Regions from separate parts of the Homo sapiens genome. Here region 2 is linked to region 1. Evidence: fine-mapped QTL for protein levels in blood plasma. A gene starts in region 1. The other region holds a variant in brackets. All regions are shown on one strand. Distances are between the middles of the regions.

The links. A credible set is the group of variants that fine-mapping cannot tell apart. PIP is the posterior inclusion probability: the model's chance that the variant is causal. The UK Biobank Pharma Proteomics Project read protein levels with antibody pairs (Olink). The fine-mapping took linkage between variants from a reference panel, not from the people measured, so its PIPs are less certain.
Region 2: its variant is the best candidate, but not a certain one, in a credible set for the plasma level of the CXCL11 protein (UK Biobank, PIP 0.86).

The regions. Positions count from the first base shown.
Region 1 is chr4:76,034,087-76,039,086 of GRCh38, forward strand. CXCL11 (C-X-C motif chemokine ligand 11) reads right to left here and starts at 1,984. Exons shown (of 4, transcript NM_005409.5): 1 at 1,841-1,984; 2 at 1,130-1,256; 3 at 961-1,033; 4 at 1-730. The coding sequence starts at 1,901. The coding sequence ends at 707. It also overlaps a transcript of ART3 not described here and the pseudogene RPL36P8.
Region 2 is chr4:76,076,804-76,082,341 of GRCh38, forward strand. It overlaps ART3 (ADP-ribosyltransferase 3 (inactive)), which reads left to right. Exons shown (of 12, transcript NM_001130016.3): 3 at 5,021-5,538. Among named protein-coding and RNA genes, the nearest start is that of ART3, 4.9 kb to the left of the region's middle. The variant G/C (reference allele first, on the strand shown) is at 2,606.

The DNA of each region.
Region 1 (5,000 bases):
CCCATAGCGTATAATTTTTTTCATAGTACATTTTATGAATTACATTTAATGAATTGGTTATAAAACAAACCAAATGATGCATAAGAATGTCTCCCTACATATTGATGTGCTACATGATGTTTGGGGAAAGAAGTGTGTATTTGCATGAAAAAATGTTTGAGGAATGTTTTACGACACATAGATGCTTTTGACTTATAAGGGCTTGACTCCAGTAATAATGTCAATGTCTCCACCGTAACCACAGATAGTAATATAGCATAAAGATCAATACAGACAGATGACTTCTAGAGACAGAAATGTTCTCATAGTCACAACAGAATAGTTGTAAGCATCAAATCTAGAAGGTTCTCTAGCCTAGAAATGCATGAATGTATAATGCAACAAGTAAGAACGTGAAAGCACTTTGTAAACTCCGATGGTAACCAGCCTTTCTTAAGGTAGCTTTTCCTAGAAATCCATTTAATTGTTGGACTCCTTTGGGCAGTGGAATTCTGATTGTCATTCATTCAGGAAGACTGTATTTCTGTTTTTGGTCCTTTCACCCACCTTTCATCCTTCACATAACTGTACAAAAGTTGAAAGTCACAAAACCATAGAAAAGTCTCAGTTTCCTACTGTAGAATTCTTGTCATTTCAGTAGTCACAGTTAAACTTGTTCTAGGTTTTTCAGATGCTCTTTTCCAGGACTTCATATGTTTTGATATTTTTAAAAATTCTTTCTTTCAACTTTCTGGAATAAGAAAACAAGAGTTTTATTTACTTGGGCTGTTCTTGTTTCCCCCAGGACATCTAAAAACATGTAGTAAGAAGGGGAAGCTGTTACAACCAAGGACCCCTTAACAGAATATTTCACACAGGATCATAGCAGAATCTTTCTGTAGTTGTCCACATTATTTTCTTTTTCAAAAGATCTGTCTTGGATAAAACAGATTATAACATGGGAGTAATTTGGTAACTTACTTTGATTATAAGCCTTGCTTGCTTCGATTTGGGATTTAGGCATCGTTGTCCTTTATTTTCTTTCAGGGTAATACTGTTAAAAGAACATACAAGAGTCTTAAAGTTTAGATGCAAATACATAAACAAAAAAGCCTGCACCATTGTCATCTTCAGCAAGTTCATTACTTACATCACTTCTATTTTGTCACAGTTGTTACTTGGGTACATTATGGAGGCTTTCTCAATATCTGCCACTTTCACTGCTTTTACCCCAGGGCCTATGCAAAGACAGCGTCCTCTTTTGAACATGGGGAAGCCTAGAATAGATCATAGCATTAGTTAGTAATGCATCTGATTGCAACAGATGGCTGTGGTTTATAGCTGGTGGTGAACGTGAGCAGAATTTTCATTAAGGGTAAAGATAGTAATTTGTCAAATAGCACTTAACACAACTGTTACTGGGAAAAGTTAAGTAAGATGTTGATTATTTTCTCATTAAATTAGTAAGCAAATCGCTAACAAATGGGAAGCATGAAGGAAGTTTATTGGAGGTGAAGCTTGTTTTGCCCCCTTGATTTTATCCTCAAATATTTTCCCAGGAAGCTTGTTAACATGATCGCTATATAAAATCTTCTTAACAGACATTTAAAACTGTTGCTAAAGGCTTTTGCCAGATATTCTAGCCAAATCAAAAATTCCATGAAGTTCATAATTTCTAGTTTCAATAATCATCTCTAGTATCTTAAACATGTCCACCATTTCTGTGCTAAAGCTGTAGTAACTTCTAATCTGTGAGATTAAATAAAACTTTATCATGTCTTTTAGGATAAAAGTGGAAGAAAAGACATTTGAAACATTAGAAAAGGAACTTATAGGTTGAGAAATAAAAATTACTGCATACCTTGAACAACTGTAGCACACAATATCACAGCCAAGGCTATAGCCATGCCCTTCACACTCATGTTTGTTTTTTGCTGTTGCTGCTGGTGCTGCTGCTGCTACTTCAGCTTTGCTGCTCTTCTTGGAAGGAGTAGAAATGCTGAACATGAAAGGAAATTGATAATTGGCATATATAGAGCATTTTATACACCAGCAATCCTTTTATGGCACAGGAATTTCCCTCTTTGAGTCATGCACCTTTCCTGCTTCCAAGAGTTTCTGTTTTGTTCTCTTCTAAATGTTACTGTCCCTTCCTATTTGCAGTAGTGTTGAAAGTGATAAGAATGTGAAAGCACTGTGAAAACCCAGATGGTAACCAGCCTTCTTAAGGTAGCTTTTCCTAGAAATCCATTTAATTGTCGGACTACTTTGGGCAGCGGAATTCTGATTGTCATTCATTCAGGAAGACTGTGTTTCTGTTTTTGGTCCTTTCACCCACCCTTCATCCTTCACATATCTATACAAAATAATATTCTGAAAAGCTTTTTTTTATTATCTCACTTTTGCTTTTCAGTCCAAACTCTTATAATAGATAAGGCCTATATTATTTGACACCAGATGACCTTTATTCAATTTCATATTTTTACCTGTAAATGAGTGCCTAAAGAAGTTTCCCTGTGTTTCTGTATTTATGTCCATATTGTTTTGCATTTTCAACAATTTTTACTTTATATATTTTATTTTGTTTTGCTTTATTTTATTTTTAAATTTAATTTAATTTTATTACTTTATTTTATATTTATTTTATTCTGCAAAGCTTTCATTATAGGCAGATGGCAGGGGGCTCAGTCCTTCTTGGCAGCTGCTTTCCTCATGGCAGCCAGGACGTTGCTCAGCTCCTCCTGCCTTCTCTTGGTGCAGATGTTTGTCCCTACCCTTTTCTTGATGAATTTGAGGGCCTGTTTGACCTTGGAGACCTTCAGTAACTCCATGCCACGCCACTCGTTAGGGGTGAAGCCACACACCTCTGGGATCATGTCCCACACAAATTTAGTGAGTTTGGTCAGGCGCCCACAGTGGCTGTGCCTGGGCTTGCTCACATTCTTGGTCACCTTGTGGCCCTTGTTGAGGCCCACAGCTATAGGGTAGTGCAGTGTCATGGCTGCTGCCCTCCAATGGTGGCCATGGTGGAAAGCTACTTTATATATATTTTAGCACTGTTACTTAGTACATGAAGTTGTATGAGTTGTATTAGGGATCATAAAAAAAAGTGATCCTCTTTGCTCATGTGATAGTTTTACCTCTGAGATTCTACTTTGATGTAATTCCTATTTTTTTGTCTTTATCTTTTCCTCTTAAGCTTCCTAAATCTTTGTTTTAAGTGTGTCACTTGTAGATGTTTAAGAAAATCATATCAAAGGAGCTTTCTAATGGGTAAGCTTAATAAAATATATTTACTGTATAACTGGTAATCTGTAATTTTTAAAATGCTTCCTTGCTGATTCTTTATGTTTTCTTTGATTTCTTTCTAACTTTAAATATATTTTATTTAACTTTTTGAAGCCATTTTTGTTTTTTTTAATGAGATGGGTCTCACTCTGTCACCATTCTGGAGTCGAGTGGCACAATCATAGCTCACTGCAGCCATGAACTCCAGGCCTCAAGCAATCCTCCTGCCTTGGTCTCCCAAAGTGCTAGGATTACTGGGATGAGCCACGGTGCTTGGCCTTCCTTAAGTAATTTGAAAGGAATACATTGTTTTACATTTTGATATTAATTCTTAAAATTCTTTAAAAAGATTTTTACCTGAATTTTTCTAATTATTTACATCAACCATCAATAATATTTTTTTAGCTCCTGTCTTTGTAACATGAGAAAATCACTGTAACTTTCTTTCAAGAATTTTCTCCTATTTCCTAGTTTTACCAATAAAAGTTGGTATAATCGGGGAATTTATAGCCAGTTTATTACTTTTAGATTATTATTTTATCTTATTCAACTTCTTTTTTTGAGAATTATCATTTGCATTTTATCTTGAAATTATATATTTATTTAGATATAATCCTGCATTTAAATTCTTTAACAACCATGACTAGTCTTTAAAACCTTTGAAAGTCTTTACAGTAGTCCCCCATTAAATGAGAAATTCTAGAAATAATTCATAAGTTTTAAATTGTGCACTTTTCTGAGTAGCATGATGAAATCTCACATCATCTTGCTCCATCACTTCATCCCATCACATAGACATTTTATCATTTCACAGCATCACTAGAAGAGTGAGTATAGTACAATAAGATATTTGAAGAGAGAGAGACTACACAGTCACTTAACTTTTATTACAGAATATTGTTGTAATTATTCTATATATTAATGTTGATGCTCTTACTGTGGCTAATTTATAAATCAAACTTTTTTATAGGTATATATGTACAGGAAAAAATACAATATATACAGGGCTCAGTACTATCTGCAGTTTCAGGCACTCATTGGGGGTCTTGGAACATATCCCCCAAGGATAAGGTGAGGGGGCTACTGTATTTTAATTAATTTCCAAGTAGCTGGAATATTCTTTCCTTCTTTTCCATTAATTCATTTAACATATGTAAAGAAAGACTAATTTTCCCTCAGGAATATGGGTAAAGTAAAAGGAATGTGTTCTTGGAGCTCATAAATCCTTATCTGTTATTATTTTTTAATGTTGCTTTTCATTTTCTCAGCATTAGAAACACAGTAGAGCATAGTTGTTAATAGGGAAGGCTCTAGAGTCAGCCTGTGTTCAAATCCACCCTTGATTATTTATTTATTTATTTATTTATTTATTTATTTATTTATCTTTGAGATGGATTCTTGCTCTGTAGCCCAGGCTGGAGTGCAGTGGTGTGATCTCGACTCACCACAGCCTCTGCCTCCTGGATTCAAGTGATTCGCCTGCCTCAGCCTCCCAAGTAGCTGGGATTACAGGTGCGTGCCTCCATGCCTGGCTAATTTTTATAGTTTTAGTAGAGATGGTGTTTAGCCATGTTGGCCAAGCTGGTCTTGAACTCCTAACCTCAGGTGATCCTGCCGCCTTGGCCTCCCAAAGTGCTGGGATTACAGGCGTGAGCCACTGTGCCCAGCCCACATTCAGTTATTTATGAACAAGTTACCTCAACTTTTTGAGGCTATTTTCTCATCTATAGACT
Region 2 (5,538 bases), 43 kb after region 1:
GTAACATATTTTTATGTAAAATATAATATTTCACTTGATTTTTTTTCCCCACGTTGTTAGCTGCCACATTACTTGTGGGTATTTGTGCACCATTTTAGATGCCTTTTTAAAAATATCTTAAATTCTTAAACTGTTATCCTTTTTTGAATTTAATATTCTAATCCATTTTCTATAGAATCATTGTGTATCCTGTTTCCTGTGTCGCAGTATGTTTTTTATTGAAATATAATTTACATACCATAAAAATTCACCATTTTTAGCTGTATACTTCAGTGGTTTCAGTATATTCATTATGTTCTGCAACCATCACCACTATCTGATTGCAAAACATTTCCGTCAACCCAAAAAGAAACCCTGTACTTATTAGCAGTCAGCCCCAATTTTCTCCATCCCCCATTCCCTGGCAACCACTGTCTACTTTCTGTGTCTATGGTTTTGCCTATTCTGGATATTTCGCCTAAATGGAATCATACAATATGTGACCTTTTGTGTCTGGCTTCTTTCACTTAGCATAATGTTCTCAGGAGTCCTATCAGTACTTCATTCTTTCTTATAGCCGAGTAATATTCTATTTTATGGCCGTACCGCATCTTGTTTATCCATTTATCAGCTGATGGACATTTGGGCTGTTTCCACTTTATGGCTATTACGAATAGTGGTGTTGTGAACATTTATGTACAAGTTTTTATGTGAACATGTGTTTTATTTTTCTTTTTAAAAAATTTTCTAATCATATAGTCTTGACATATTGAGATACTACAAACACTATTTGGTTATTTGGTAGCATTACAGAGTAAAGTTTACTTATATATAGGAAATATATATGTAAGAATGAATTTGGGGGTTATGATTTATGATTCATAGCAAAATTACCTATTGTTGTGAACATGTTTCACTTCTCTTGGGTGTACACCTAGTAGTGGAATTGCTGGGTTGTACGGTAATTTTATGTTAACTTTTTTAGGAACTGCCAAACTTTTTCACACTAGCTGCATGGTATTACAATCCCACCAGCAGTATATTAGGATTCTAATATCTCTGCATCCTTGTGTTACATGTTACTTGGTTTTTCATCATTTATAGCCATCGTAGAGGATATGAAGTGGTATTTCATTGTGGTTTTGATTTGGTTTTCAATATACTCTTGCAACATAATTTAAGTGTATTTGTTCTGTAATTGTTTCATGATTTGCTTAGCCAGTTTCTCTCCTTGACCTTTAGGTCATTTCCATATTTTTGTAAGAAATTTTTGGTAATTGAATTTCATTAGTATGGGCTTTTTTTCTCGGTGGTTATATCAGAGAAATATAATCAGCTTGTTCACCTAGCCTTTTGTACCTGTTTTTTAGTATCTGTTCAGTTGTCCCTGAATAGTGGTGGCATTTATGAACTTTGTCACTGCTCAAGGCACGCACCATACAAAATACACAATCAGCTATGGTGTCTGGCCAGAAAGACTTGATGTCTAAAATTAGACATTTGGAGACTGGTTAGAGGCATAGGGAAAAGACAGGAACATAGTAGATCAACTCTGATATAATGTAAGGAATGTGGGAGGTGTTTTCAGGGTCTGGTGTCTTATACGGTGTTGAAGTCTTGAAGATAAATCAGGCATTGGCACCCAAGCTGCACTCTGGTACATTCTGTGCTGTGGAGGAAAGTGCATTTCTTGGCTATGAGATGGCAGTGATTTGATCTCCTGAAGCTCAAATTCCCATGTCAGGAAACTGACCTACAAACCCAGGACTACGGGGGTCTTAATGACTTCCATGGCAGAATTCTCTGTGGCTAGTAATCAAGATAGTTTCTGAAGCTGGCACAATTCCCTCGTTTGTAAAATGGTGTTAACTATTTTTTGTTAACCTTTTATAAATGTTGTAATGAAGACAGAATTACACTCTTTTTCAAGTGCTACATAAATGTCCATGGTCTTCATAATTGGAAACATTCTGATTCTTTAGAGGCAACAGAACAGTTTGGTTAAGAGGACAAGACGGCCGGGCACGGTGGCTCACGCCTGTAATCCCAGCACTTTGGGAGGCCGAGAAAGGCAGATCACGAGGTCGGGAGATCGAGACCATCCTGGCTAACATGGTGAAACCCCGTCTCTACTAAAAATACAGAAAAATTAGCCGGGCGTGGTGGCGGGCGTCTGTAGTCCCAGCTACTGGGGAGGCTGAAGCGGGAGAATGGCGTGAACCCGGCAGGCGGAGCTTGCAGTGAGCCGAAATAGTGCCACTGCACTCCAGCCTGGGCGGCAGAGCGAGACTCCGTCTAAAAAAAAAAAAAAGGACAAGACTCTGGAATTAGACTGCCTGAGATCAAATTCCAATTCCATGTAAGTCTCAATCTCTTAGTTTCCTCATCTTTGTTAAAAAAAAAAAAAAAAAAGGCGGGGGGCTAATAATAGTACCTACCTCACAAGGTTGCCGAACACTTAGTGCCTGGCATATAGAAAGAACTCTGGAGATGTTTGTTAAACTTAGTGATAGAGTGTCCACCCAGTGTGTCTGAGAAGGAAATATGTAGGAAAAGTTCACAAATGAAAAATGGTTTTAAATAAGAACCAGGTCGTTGTGGCTGTACGATTGTAAGTTTCGTCTTA[G/C]ACATGTTACGTATGAAGGTTCTTTGAACATTCAAGTGGAGGTGTTAAGTAGGCAGATAAATTTGATATATAGGACTGGCACTTACAGGATAGATCAGATATATTTAGATCATAATTGAAACTGTAAGCATGTATATAACTGCCTGGGGAGCGTAGAGTTGAGAGTTAGAAAATACGTAGCCTTGAGGAACTCCAACATTTAATGGCTAACTGGAATATGTTGGGTCTGCAAAAGAGTCTAAGAAGAAATGCTCCCTTAAGTGAGAGCTGTTTGGGTGGAGAAATGGGTGGGAAGCCATAATGGGGAGGGTTGAGCTATACGTGGGAAATGAAGTGGAGATGGCAAGGACAGACATCTCTTTCAAGATGTTTGTTCGTGAGGGAGAGAAGAGAGATGGGAAAGGAGATACCTAGAGCAGGATATGGAAGCAAGTTTTGTTTTGCGTTTACAAGTTAGTATCTCTGTCTCTCTCTCTCTGTCTCTCTCTCTTTCACTCTCTCTCTCTCTCTCACACACACACACAGAGAGAGAGAGAGAGAGAGTTTTTAAGTATCATTCACATAGAACCTGTAACTTTTTTTTTGAATCTGTAACTTTAACAGCTTCTAGCTAAATATGTCTATAAAGTCTCCAACTGAGGTCCCTAAGCAGACTTATGCAACTATGCACCATACAAGTATAGACTAATGGAAGAGGCATTATCCTTTTATTTGTAGAAACTCATAAATGGTATTCCTGGGGAGATTTGATCATCTTATTTTTTGATCCATAAGCCAGAGTACAGGGTTCTAATGTAGTTCACTTGAATATTTTGCCAGGTTCTGTGCTAGGTGTGTAGGATTCAAAGATAAAAACGATACAGACCGTACCCTTAAGGATCTAACAGTATAATACATATATTCCTAGCATGAAATAATACAAAAAAACCACATCACACTGGAGAAAGACCTTATGAAAAAATAATAATAACCACGGCATGTTAAAGACTTGATATGTGCCAGGCATGGGGCAGAGGGCTTTGCATATGTTCATTACATAATTTAATTCTCACAGCCATCCCACAGTTAAATACTATTTCCTCCACTTTGTCTTCCTTTTTTAATTTATTTTTTATTTTTTGAGATGGAGTTTTGCTCTTTTGCCCAGGCTGGAGTGCTGTGGTGCAGTCTCCGCTCCCTGCAACCTCCGCCTTCTGGTTTCAAGCGATTCTCCTGCCTCAGCTTCCTAAGTAGCTGGGATTACAGGCGCCTGCCACTACGCTCAGCTAATTTTTGTATTTTTAGTAGAGATGGGGTTTCATCATGTTAGCCAGGCTGGTCTTGAACTCCTGACCTCATGATCTGCCCGCCTCGGCCTCCCAGAGTGCTGGGATTACAGACATGAGCCACTGCACCTGGCCTTTTATCCTAATTTTTTTTAAAATTGAAAACTTGAGGATTAGAAATGTCAAGTAACTTTCCCATACCTAGTTAGTAACAAATGGGATTTGAACTCTGATCTGCCTGGCTTCAAAGTGGTGTTAATTACATTACACCACCCTGCTTCTTATGTTATGTGAACATATGTATATGTATAATTTAGTTGTATGTGGTATTATGCCTCTTCAGTTGTATGTGACTGAAATACAGTTCAAACTAGCTGAAGCAAACAGGGAATTTATTGATTCTTACAACTGGTGAAGAGTACAGTTAGGCCCAGCGTCTAAAGTATGTTTTCGGGTCCTCATCTCTACCTCTCAGCTCAGCAAGCCTTATTTGTTGCTTTATTTTAAGACAGAATTCTCCATGGGACTAAAGAATAACTGTTGGAAGCCCTAGGCCAATATTATCCTTAGAGCTTACAGCTTTAGAGGAAGAAAGATCCATTTTTTTCCTCTGGGAGCTCTGATTGCTAGACTTTAGATCACCTGCTTATCCAGGAGGTGCAAAATCATTTCTACCCAGGCCATATGGACAAGGGAGGGGGCAACCCCAAAGGAAAAGGGTAATGTTTGTCATTATGTGTTATAGATCATGAATAATATTTTGCATATGATACTTCAAATTCCCAACAGCCTTGAAGGGTTGAAGAAATCTAGCTAAGATGTTCAAAGCCAGGACTGCCACCCATTTCTTTAGCTTCACATCCATTGTTCTTTGCTCTGTGCCATAATGTCCAGATAAATGAGCTACAGGCACAATCTCACCCATACCTCTCACCCACTGACATTTACTCTTTCACACAAATATGGCACAGCTGAGAAAAGTTATCAATAGCAATGGAATATACTTCCTGCATAAAAACCTACCCAAAATTGGTTATAAGTCAGGCGAGAATTTTGGCAAGGGATGAGAAGGTGGGGGTAATAATGTGAGAGAAAATGATATTCACTGAATTTCTTATTTCAAGAGTATTAATTTCTTTTTCCTTTGAAGGTGAAGGCTGAAGTGTTAGACATGGCAGATAATGCATTTGATGATGAATACCTGAAATGTACGGACAGGATGGAAATTAAATACGTTCCCCAACTGCTAAAGGAGGAAAAAGCAAGCCACCAGCAATTAGATACTGTGTGGGAAAATGCAAAAGCCAAATGGGCAGCCCGAAAGACTCAAATCTTTCTCCCTATGAATTTTAAGGATAACCATGGAATAGCCCTGATGGCATATATTTCCGAAGCTCAAGAGCAAACTCCCTTTTACCATCTGTTCAGTGAAGCTGTGAAGATGGCTGGCCAATCTCGAGAAGATTATATCTATGGCTTCCAGTTCAAAGCTTTCCACTTTTACCTCACAAGAGCCCTGCAGTTGCTGAGAAAACCTTGTGAGGCCAGTTCCAAAACTGTGGTATATAGAACAAGCCAGGGCACTTCATTTACATTTGGAGGGCTAAACCAAGCCAGGTTTGGCCATTTTACCTTGGCATATTCAGCCAAACCTCAGGCTGCTAATGA